3 separate regions of the Homo sapiens genome follow, and regions 1 and 2 are each linked to region 3. The links come from fine-mapping of genetic effects on gene expression. A gene starts in region 3. Each other region holds a variant in brackets. All regions are shown on one strand. Distances are from middle to middle.

Region 1 (2,764 bases), 140 kb after region 3:
AAGTGTCGGGATGATTCAGACTGTGCAAGGGAAGGAATATGTAATGGCTTCACAGCTCTCTGCCCAGCATCTGACCCTAAACCAAACTTCACAGACTGTAATAGGCATACACAAGTGTGCATTAATGGGGTAAGCATTTAACTATATGTTTTAAAATTTAATTTTAGAAAACTTGTTTTTCAGAAGAATTATTGATGCTTAAAGCTACATAGTTAAAGTAATTAATCTTGGTCTCTGTTTAAGTAATATTCCCTCACAAAACCATGAATATATTATGTGGCATTCAATTAGCTACTAATTTGTCTTTCATCTTTCCATGTACATGTGGTTGATATTCTCTAGAGAAACATAGTTGTACAACTCGGCATGTGATTTGTCTATAATATTTAAGTTTTATAAAATAATATTTCAGTAGCCTAAATAAAAGAACTCTTTGGTCATCTTCTCTGAATATCAAACCTTCAAAGCTTTTGTGGCTGAATATCACTTTGCTCTACAGGAAAAAAATTTAATTTTTCTTTCTTTATAGAAGAGCCGTAATAACCAACATAAAATCGATCCTCATCTAATCTCTTGCTCTGCTTTTATTTCATTTTTTTAAGTTGCCATTGCTTTAAAAGATTTACTATCTTTCTTGGATTTACTGTTTTTCAAATTTTTTCAAATGTATTTATGTAATTCAGTTTTGATACTCATCTCTGTTTGTTTTTCACTTTCATTTCCATTTAAATATTTTGACATTGGAAGCTCATACTTGCCTGTCTGTTACTATAAAAAATAGGTTTGACTGTATAGGGATTAAACAATTTGTCTTTTATTTTTCTTCTAGCAATGTGCAGGTTCTATCTGTGAGAAATATGGCTTAGAGGAGTGTACGTGTGCCAGTTCTGATGGCAAAGATGATAAAGAATTATGCCATGTATGCTGTATGAAGAAAAGTAAGGCTTTTAAAAACACAAGAGTATAAAATTTGCCTCAAACTATTATTTTCTCCTAAATTTTAAGTGTAAAACTTTGACCTACAGTTTGGCCAGATAATTTCCAGCTAAATCTGTCCTCTTGAGGAGATTATAAATGTAACGTAGCATTGTGTCTCTATTATTATGGTCTCTACAATGTTTTAAAAATGATAAACTAGACAAAACGTTGCCAGCTTTACAGCAGTAATTTACATAAACACTGTTAGACTTTAAGTCATCGTGGACACTGAGTCAAGACTTGCTGGTTGCTTGTTTACATTGTAACATTTAATATGAATTACTGATGGCGTTACCCAGCCTAACTAGAGAAGGTCTGTATAACATGTTATGGTAATGATTTCAGTTTTTTTTCCCTCTTTGTATTTGCACAACTGGAAATCTGATCT[T/G]CAACTTATATTTGAATCTGACCTTCAGCTTATATTTGGCATTTCTTTTCCAGTGGACCCATCAACTTGTGCCAGTACAGGGTCTGTGCAGTGGAGTAGGCACTTCAGTGGTCGAACCATCACCCTGCAACCTGGATCCCCTTGCAACGATTTTAGAGGTTACTGTGATGTTTTCATGCGGTGCAGATTAGTAGATGCTGATGGTCCTCTAGCTAGGCTTAAAAAAGCAATTTTTAGTCCAGAGCTCTATGAAAACATTGCTGAATGGATTGTGGTAAGTATGTTTTTTATTTACAAAGAAAACTTAAAGTGGTTTGATCTTAATTTTACTTGGCCAGAAGTCATCAAAGTTACGAGAAAACAACTTAACTATTTATATTAGAATTACTTTATATGAAGATTTTTAAAGTTCTAATATTTCTGGTTATTATTTCCTTCTGAAGTGATCAGAATCATGTGTATCATTCATAGATTGCTTAGTAGGTGATGGGAGTCATTCTGTTTTACCGTGCTCCTTAGTTCATCTCCTGGATGGGTTACTTCTTTTGGTGCATATTATTAGGGCATTTTCATGGGACTTAAAAAACATTTTTTTTTGTTGTTTTTCAAGACAACTTATTTGCCCAAATCGTGGACTAATTGGTGATTTTTCCTGATCTTTCAGTATAATCTCTGGGTCTTTATCTTGTTTGTAATAGGAAATGTTGAACAGAATAAGATCAGATACACAGCCTTTTGTAGATCTACTAATGATTATGGATGTTCATCCAGCAGTAATCCACTGAACGCTTATTTTTAAGCCCACATATCTCCAAGTTGTACAAACACAGAATTACCTGATGTTTTCTTAAAAGATTGTCAAGATTGACTATCTCAACTTAAGTGTTCATGCTTTAAAAGTGATAACATTAAAATATCTATAGGAAGCTTGCAAATGATATATTTGAGAATGTGCTATAATTGAACTGAATGTAGTTTGCTTTGGAAATTGACTTATAACTCACATTCCCCTTTCTCAAATTAGTGTGTATGTGTGTGTGTGTGTATGTATGTATGTGTGTGTTCAGAACTATGGATGCCTTAAAGCACAAAAGATGTTGTTTGTGTGGGATGTCAGCCTTTTTTGTACTCTTCTAATAACATTCTAGAGTAAAAATTTTATAGTTAACCCCAGCATTTAAAATGATGTTTACCGTTCCTAGGACACATTAGGATATGTGGTTTTTAGATATGTAATGATCATGGAGTAGAAGGATTGTTGAAATTGGATTTAGGAGATCTACCTAGGTTTCAAACCAAATACTTGAGCAGTTGACTTAACTTAGGTTTCCTTAAAACATGTTACTCTTTTTTTAAATTCCTGTGCTTGTTGCGTGGTAAGTTCTAGTAAATACCTGT
Region 2 (2,764 bases), 61 kb after region 3:
AGTTGAGTACTCTTCCCTCCTGTTTTCTTAAAATAGTTTTATAGGACATCAGGGGAACCATCTGGCCCTGGTATTTTTCTTGTGGAAAGGCCTTAAATCATGAATTCATTTTCTTCAGTAGATAGGGGCTTATTCAGATTTTCTATATTTTGTGATAGTTTTCATAATTTGTACCTTTTAAGGAGTTTATTTTATCTAAGTAATTGAATTTATTTTCATTATGCTCATAATATTACTTTATCACTCAATGTCTGCAGTACTGGAATGATGTTTTCTTTTTTATTCTTCATTGACAATGTATTTTTTAATGATCTTTTTTATTGGCTGTAGAATTTGGATTGACATTGTTTTTCTTTCAGCATTAAAAAAGTTACTCCAATAATTTCTAGCTTGCATTATTATTATTATTATTTTTGTGGAGACAGAGTCTTGCTCTGTGGCCCACGTTGGAGTGCAGTGGCATGATCTCAGCTCACTGCAACCTCTGCCTCCTGGGTTCAAGCAATTCTCCTGCCTCATCCTACTGAGTAGCTGGGACTACAGATGCACACCACCATGCCCGGCTAATTTTTTGTATTTTAGTAGAGACAGGCTTTCACCATGTTGCCCAGGCTGGTCTCGAACTCCTAAGCTAAGGCAATCTGCCCACCTTGGCCTCCCAAAGTGCTAGGATTACAGGCGTGAGCCACCACGCCCGGCCTGCTTGCATTATTTCTAATGTTAAATCAGCAGTCACTCTGCATATAATCAGTCTCTTTGATGGATTTTAAGATTTTCTCTTTAACGCTGATTTTCAGCAGTGACTGTGGTGTGTTTTGTGGGTTTTTCTTTGTGTGTATCTTTCTTGGTGTTTGTTGAGTTACTTAGACTTGTGTTTATAGTTTTATCAGTTTGGAAGTTTTTTATCATTTTATCAAATTTTTTTTTCTGTCTCCTCTCGCTTCTTTATTTATTTACTGTTTGATAGGTTACTGAGGCTCTGGGTTTTTTTTTTTTAAACTCTTTATCTCTCTGTACATCAAGTTAGATAGTTTTTGTTACCCTGTCTTCAAGTTCGCTGATATTCTTTCTTGCAGTATCTCATCTGCTCTTAAGTCAGTCCAGTGAGAGAGAGAGATATATATATATATATATATA[A/TATAA]TTTTTTTTTTCATTTTAGAAATTATATTTTCCAATTCTGGAAGTTTCCTCCCCTCTCATTCCTTTCCCTCTCTCCTCTCTTCCCTGTCCCTCCCCTTCCCTCCCCTCTTTCGACAGTTTTTGGTTTCTCCTTATTGTGCTTATATTTTCCCCATAATTCTTTAACATATTTACAATATATAGACACTAAATCACTAAATCCTTGTCTGCTAATTCCGTTATCATTCATTCTCACTTTTTTTGGGGGGGACTAATTTTCTTCTTCTTTGTCACATTTCTTTATAGTTAGTGGTTTGGTTTTTTTACCCCTTGTTTTTTTTAATAGTTTGTGGTTTTTAATTGGATATTTCACATTTTGATTAATATTTAGTGTCTTTTTGTCGTTGTTTGTTTTTTTTAAAATTAGAGATGGAGTCTTGCTACATTGCCCAGGCTGATTGAAAACTCCTGGGCTCAAGCAATCTTCCCACCTTGCCCTCCCAAAATACTGGGACTACAGGTGTGAGCCACTGTGCCCACCTGTGTCTGGATTTTTAAAAAACTTTTAATTTAAAAATAATTGTAGAGTCACAGGAGCTTCTACTGGGAAGTCCTGGACATCTTTCCCCCAGTCTCCCTCAGTGTTCACAATTTATATAACTATATTACAACATCAAAACCAAGATTGATATTGGTACAATGCATAGAGTTTATTTGGGTTTCATCAGTTTTACATGTACGTGCATGTGTGTGTGCCTGTGCATAATTCTGTGCAATTTTGTCACATGGGTAGTCTTGTGTAATTATCCCTACAATCAAAGATACTCAATGGTAGCATCACCAGACTCCCTTGTGCTATCCCTTTATGGCCACATTCATCCCCTCCCCCATCTATAATCCTAAACAACCATTAATTGGTTCTCCATCTCCATAATTAGATTATTTCATGATTGTCGCATGAATCGTATTATGCAAGTAGTATCTTTGAGATTGACTTTTCCACTCAGCATAATTTTTTTGAAGTTTGTACAAATTGTTGTGTTTATCAATAGTTTGTTCCTTTTTATTACTAAATTCTATCCTATTGTATGGATATACCACAGTTTAACTGTTCGTATTTTTTTTTTAAAAAGTATGGAGTTTTGTTTGTTAGATAGTTGAGTAACTTGTGGATCAGCTTGACCCTTTTGAGCCTTTTTTTTTTTTATGATTAATTAAGCAGAAATTTTATTTCCAAGCTCTTCAAAGACTGTTACAAACACAAATAATGTATCCTTCTAAAAAAGTGTCCCAAATTAAATCAGATTCACATCATCAAAGTAAAACCCTTGTGAAGTTAAGAATTCTTTTAGGTTGTAATGTTTTTATGTTAGTTTTTAATCATTTACAATGTTCTGTGGGTCACATTTTAAACATTTTTAAATATATGAAATTCTGTATTTCTTTAAGTACAGCCACAGCTACAAAGTAGAGGAACGTAAGAATACAAAGACCAAATCTGCTTCATTTATATACACGATGGGGCAGCCTAATGCACATCATAACATTAACTTTTCCAAACAAGTTTGCTAAGAATCTGCTCCCATAATTAGTGTTAAAAATAAAACAATCTTCCCATTTAGAAAAATCAAGACATCAGTTGATTAGT
Region 3 (2,764 bases):
TCAGCAACTTGGGAGGCTGAGGCAGGAGAATCGCTTGAACCTGGGAGGCAGAGGTTGCGGTGAGTCGAGATCACACCATTGCACCCCAGCCTGGGCAACGAGAGCGAAACTCCGTCTCAAAAAAAAAAAAATTCTCTTCACTTATGTTAATGGTAATAAATGGTATAAAATATACAGGTAACAGTATAGGAATTCCAGTTTATTACAGTATCAATAACATTAAGGCCGAGCGCAGTGGCTCACGCCTGTAATCCCAGCACTTGTGGGAGGCCGAGGCGGGAGGATCGCTTGAGTTGGAGGTTACAGTGAGCTATGATCACACCACTGCACTTCAGCCTGGCGAGACAGCGGATACCTTGTCTTTAGAAAGCAAAACAAAACAATTTACACACACACACACACACACACACTCTCCCTAATTCGGCTTGAGTTGGAGGTTACAGTGAGCTATGATCACACCACTGCACTTCAGCCTGGCGAGACAGCGGAGACCTTGTCTTTAGAAAGCAAAACAAAACAATTTACACATACACACACACACACACGCACACACACACTCTCCCTAATTCGGCCTACTCAAGCACGATACCAAATAGATGAAGAATATCTAATTAAATGGCCATAAAAAGTTCTAGTTCATGACATCCAAGTTTAAAGAATCAAAATGAGTTACGAGAAAACAAACACAAGCTTTAAGAAGTTGGGGAGAAGATGTGCGTGGATTCGCTTCAAAGATGTGACAGAGAGAAAAGAGGACATTTTCTGGACTGGAGATTCAAGACAGTCTGGTTCAGGTTGCATGCTTTTGCAAAGGCTAAAGCCTTAGTCTGTGACATAAATTTGTAAAGAGCTCGGAAAATTACATCTCGGACATGGTGTCTTTTTTTCCTGCTGCTTGAAGGTCTTTGCATTTATGTTCGCATCACTGGGGCAGCTGCCGCTATAATTACTGCTTGTTGGGACTTTTTGTTTACTTGGTAGCTGTGGTGCACCAAGAGAGGCAGAAAAAGAAGAAAAAAAACCTCTGTTACTTGTGACGTTAAGAAGTCGAAAGCAGCCCTGCTTACATCTTCCACGGACCATTTTAGCCCAAGGGAAGGTCCTCAGCAGCTCTAACACGTAGCGGAGCACTATCTCCGCGTAGGAGCGCTCCCGCCCCGGGGCGGGACCAGGACAAACCCCGCCTCCCAAGCCCAATCCCAGCTCTCCGCCGGCGGACAGGAAGCGGCGGCAGGCCTAGCAGCACGGGAACCGTCCCCCGCGCGCATGCGCGCGCCCCTGAAGCGCCTGGGGGACGGGTAGGGGCGGGAGGTAGGGGCGCGGCTCCGCGTGCCAGTTGGGTGCCCGCGCGTCACGTGGTGAGGAAGGAGGCGGAGGTCTGAGTTTCGAAGGAGGGGGGGAGAGAAGAGGGAACGAGCAAGGGAAGGAAAGCGGGGAAAGGAGGAAGGAAACGAACGAGGGGGAGGGAGGTCCCTGTTTTGGAGGAGCTAGGAGCGTTGCCGGCCCCTGAAGTGGAGCGAGAGGGAGGTGCTTCGCCGTTTCTCCTGCCAGGGGAGGTCCCGGCTTCCCGTGGAGGCTCCGGACCAAGCCCCTTCAGCTTCTCCCTCCGGATCGATGTGCTGCTGTTAACCCGTGAGGAGGCGGCGGCGGCGGCAGCGGCAGCGGAAGATGGTGTTGCTGAGAGTGTTAATTCTGCTCCTCTCCTGGGCGGCGGGGATGGGAGGTGAGGCACGACTGCGAGCGCCGGGGGCGCCGCGACCACGGCGGAGCGGCGGCCGGGCCGAGCGGAGCCCAGTCGCGCCTCGCGGCGTGCGCGTCAGTCAGCCCAGCCGGCCAGCGGCGCCACTCTGGCGGGCCGCGCTCCCCGCTCCCTATTGTCCCCCGCGCCCCGACCGCTTTCCCTTCGGTGGCGGGCCGAGGAGGCTCCCAAGCCTCCGGCGAGGCCTTCCCCGCCCCCCACCGCCCTGGCGGCCCCGGGAGGCGGGGGTCGCCTCCCAGAGAAGCGAAGTCGGGGCATCCGCGTCGCCTGGTGAGAGCGGTGGAACCCAGGCTGGTGGCTGCATCCCTCCAGTCTGCTCGGCGGGCGCCGGTGCAGGCAGCCGCAGCGAGGCTGGCGGTCTCGCCGTCCTCGTTCAGCGCTCATCCTGCTCACCATTCCTCCCCCAGCCCCTGCCCGGTGGCGGATTCCGAAGTCCTCTCCGCCGCCGAGACCCGCCGCGCAGACTCGTGGGAAGTTGTGTTGTTTGCAGCTGGGCTCGTGTATTGTTCTTTACCCGGCGCGCCGGTCCTGACCGACCCCATTCTGCAGAGGGGCCGCCCGTGGAGTGGCAGCAGTCATCACCCGCTTATCTGAGACTAGTGGCCTCGGTTCTTCCTGTGTCCTGTGTTTGGAGAGAGATCACAGGAGGGTGTGTTGGTGTTCTTGAAAACATTCTGTCGCCCAGGGGAAAGGGTTTGGTCGGGAGAAGGGTAAACCATTTGGGGATGTTCTTTGATTTGTAGGCTGGATTGGGTCTCTTAGAGTAGAAGTTCGGTCCCTGGGTGACCCAACTTGAAGAGTTTCGTTAAACTTTCAGGTGGAGTAGATGTACAGTGTAGTTAGTGGATTGTCAAAACAGTGCCCCCTCCCCCCTGCACATGAAAGTCAAATTTGCTAAAAGCATGTCATTTCTTGTTTCGGGTTTTGAAGACAACGATTTTTATTTCCGGTGTGTTCTAGGACCAGCTGCATCATTTTATTCTTGCTTAAAGTGCTTTATTTTAG

Direction of the effects. Alleles are on the strand shown, and positions count from the first base shown. SD is a standard deviation of normalised expression in the study named. Not every link is listed here.
For the expression in cerebellar hemisphere of the gene that starts at base 1,496 in region 3, allele G in region 1 goes with a lower level than allele T (small effect, 0.28 SD a copy in GTEx).

What was found. PIP is the estimated chance that this variant, and not a neighbour inherited with it, causes the effect. A credible set is the group of variants that fine-mapping cannot tell apart.
Region 1: its variant is the best candidate, but not a certain one, in a credible set for the expression of ADAM10 in cerebellar hemisphere (GTEx, PIP 0.61).
Region 2: its variant is the best candidate, but not a certain one, in a credible set for the expression of ADAM10 in whole blood (INTERVAL, PIP 0.51).

The regions. Positions count from the first base shown.
Region 1 is chr15:58,609,173-58,611,936 of GRCh38, reverse strand. It overlaps ADAM10 (ADAM metallopeptidase domain 10), which reads left to right. Exons shown (of 16, transcript NM_001110.4): 12 at 1-129; 13 at 830-938; 14 at 1,420-1,640. Among named protein-coding and RNA genes, the nearest start is that of LIPC-AS1, 110 kb to the right of the region's middle. The variant T/G (reference allele first, on the strand shown) is at 1,367.
Region 2 is chr15:58,687,140-58,689,903 of GRCh38, reverse strand. The region is part of intron 2 of ADAM10 (ADAM metallopeptidase domain 10); the gene reads left to right. It also overlaps the pseudogene LOC100289060. Among named protein-coding and RNA genes, the nearest start is that of ADAM10, 61 kb to the left of the region's middle. The variant A/TATAA (reference allele first, on the strand shown) is at 1,138.
Region 3 is chr15:58,748,439-58,751,202 of GRCh38, reverse strand. It overlaps ADAM10 (ADAM metallopeptidase domain 10), which reads left to right and starts at 1,496. Exons shown (of 16, transcript NM_001110.4): 1 at 1,496-1,723. The coding sequence starts at 1,669. RefSeq lists enhancers at 877-1,056, 2,147-2,276, 1,728-2,363 and silencers at 1,127-1,416, 1,747-2,036.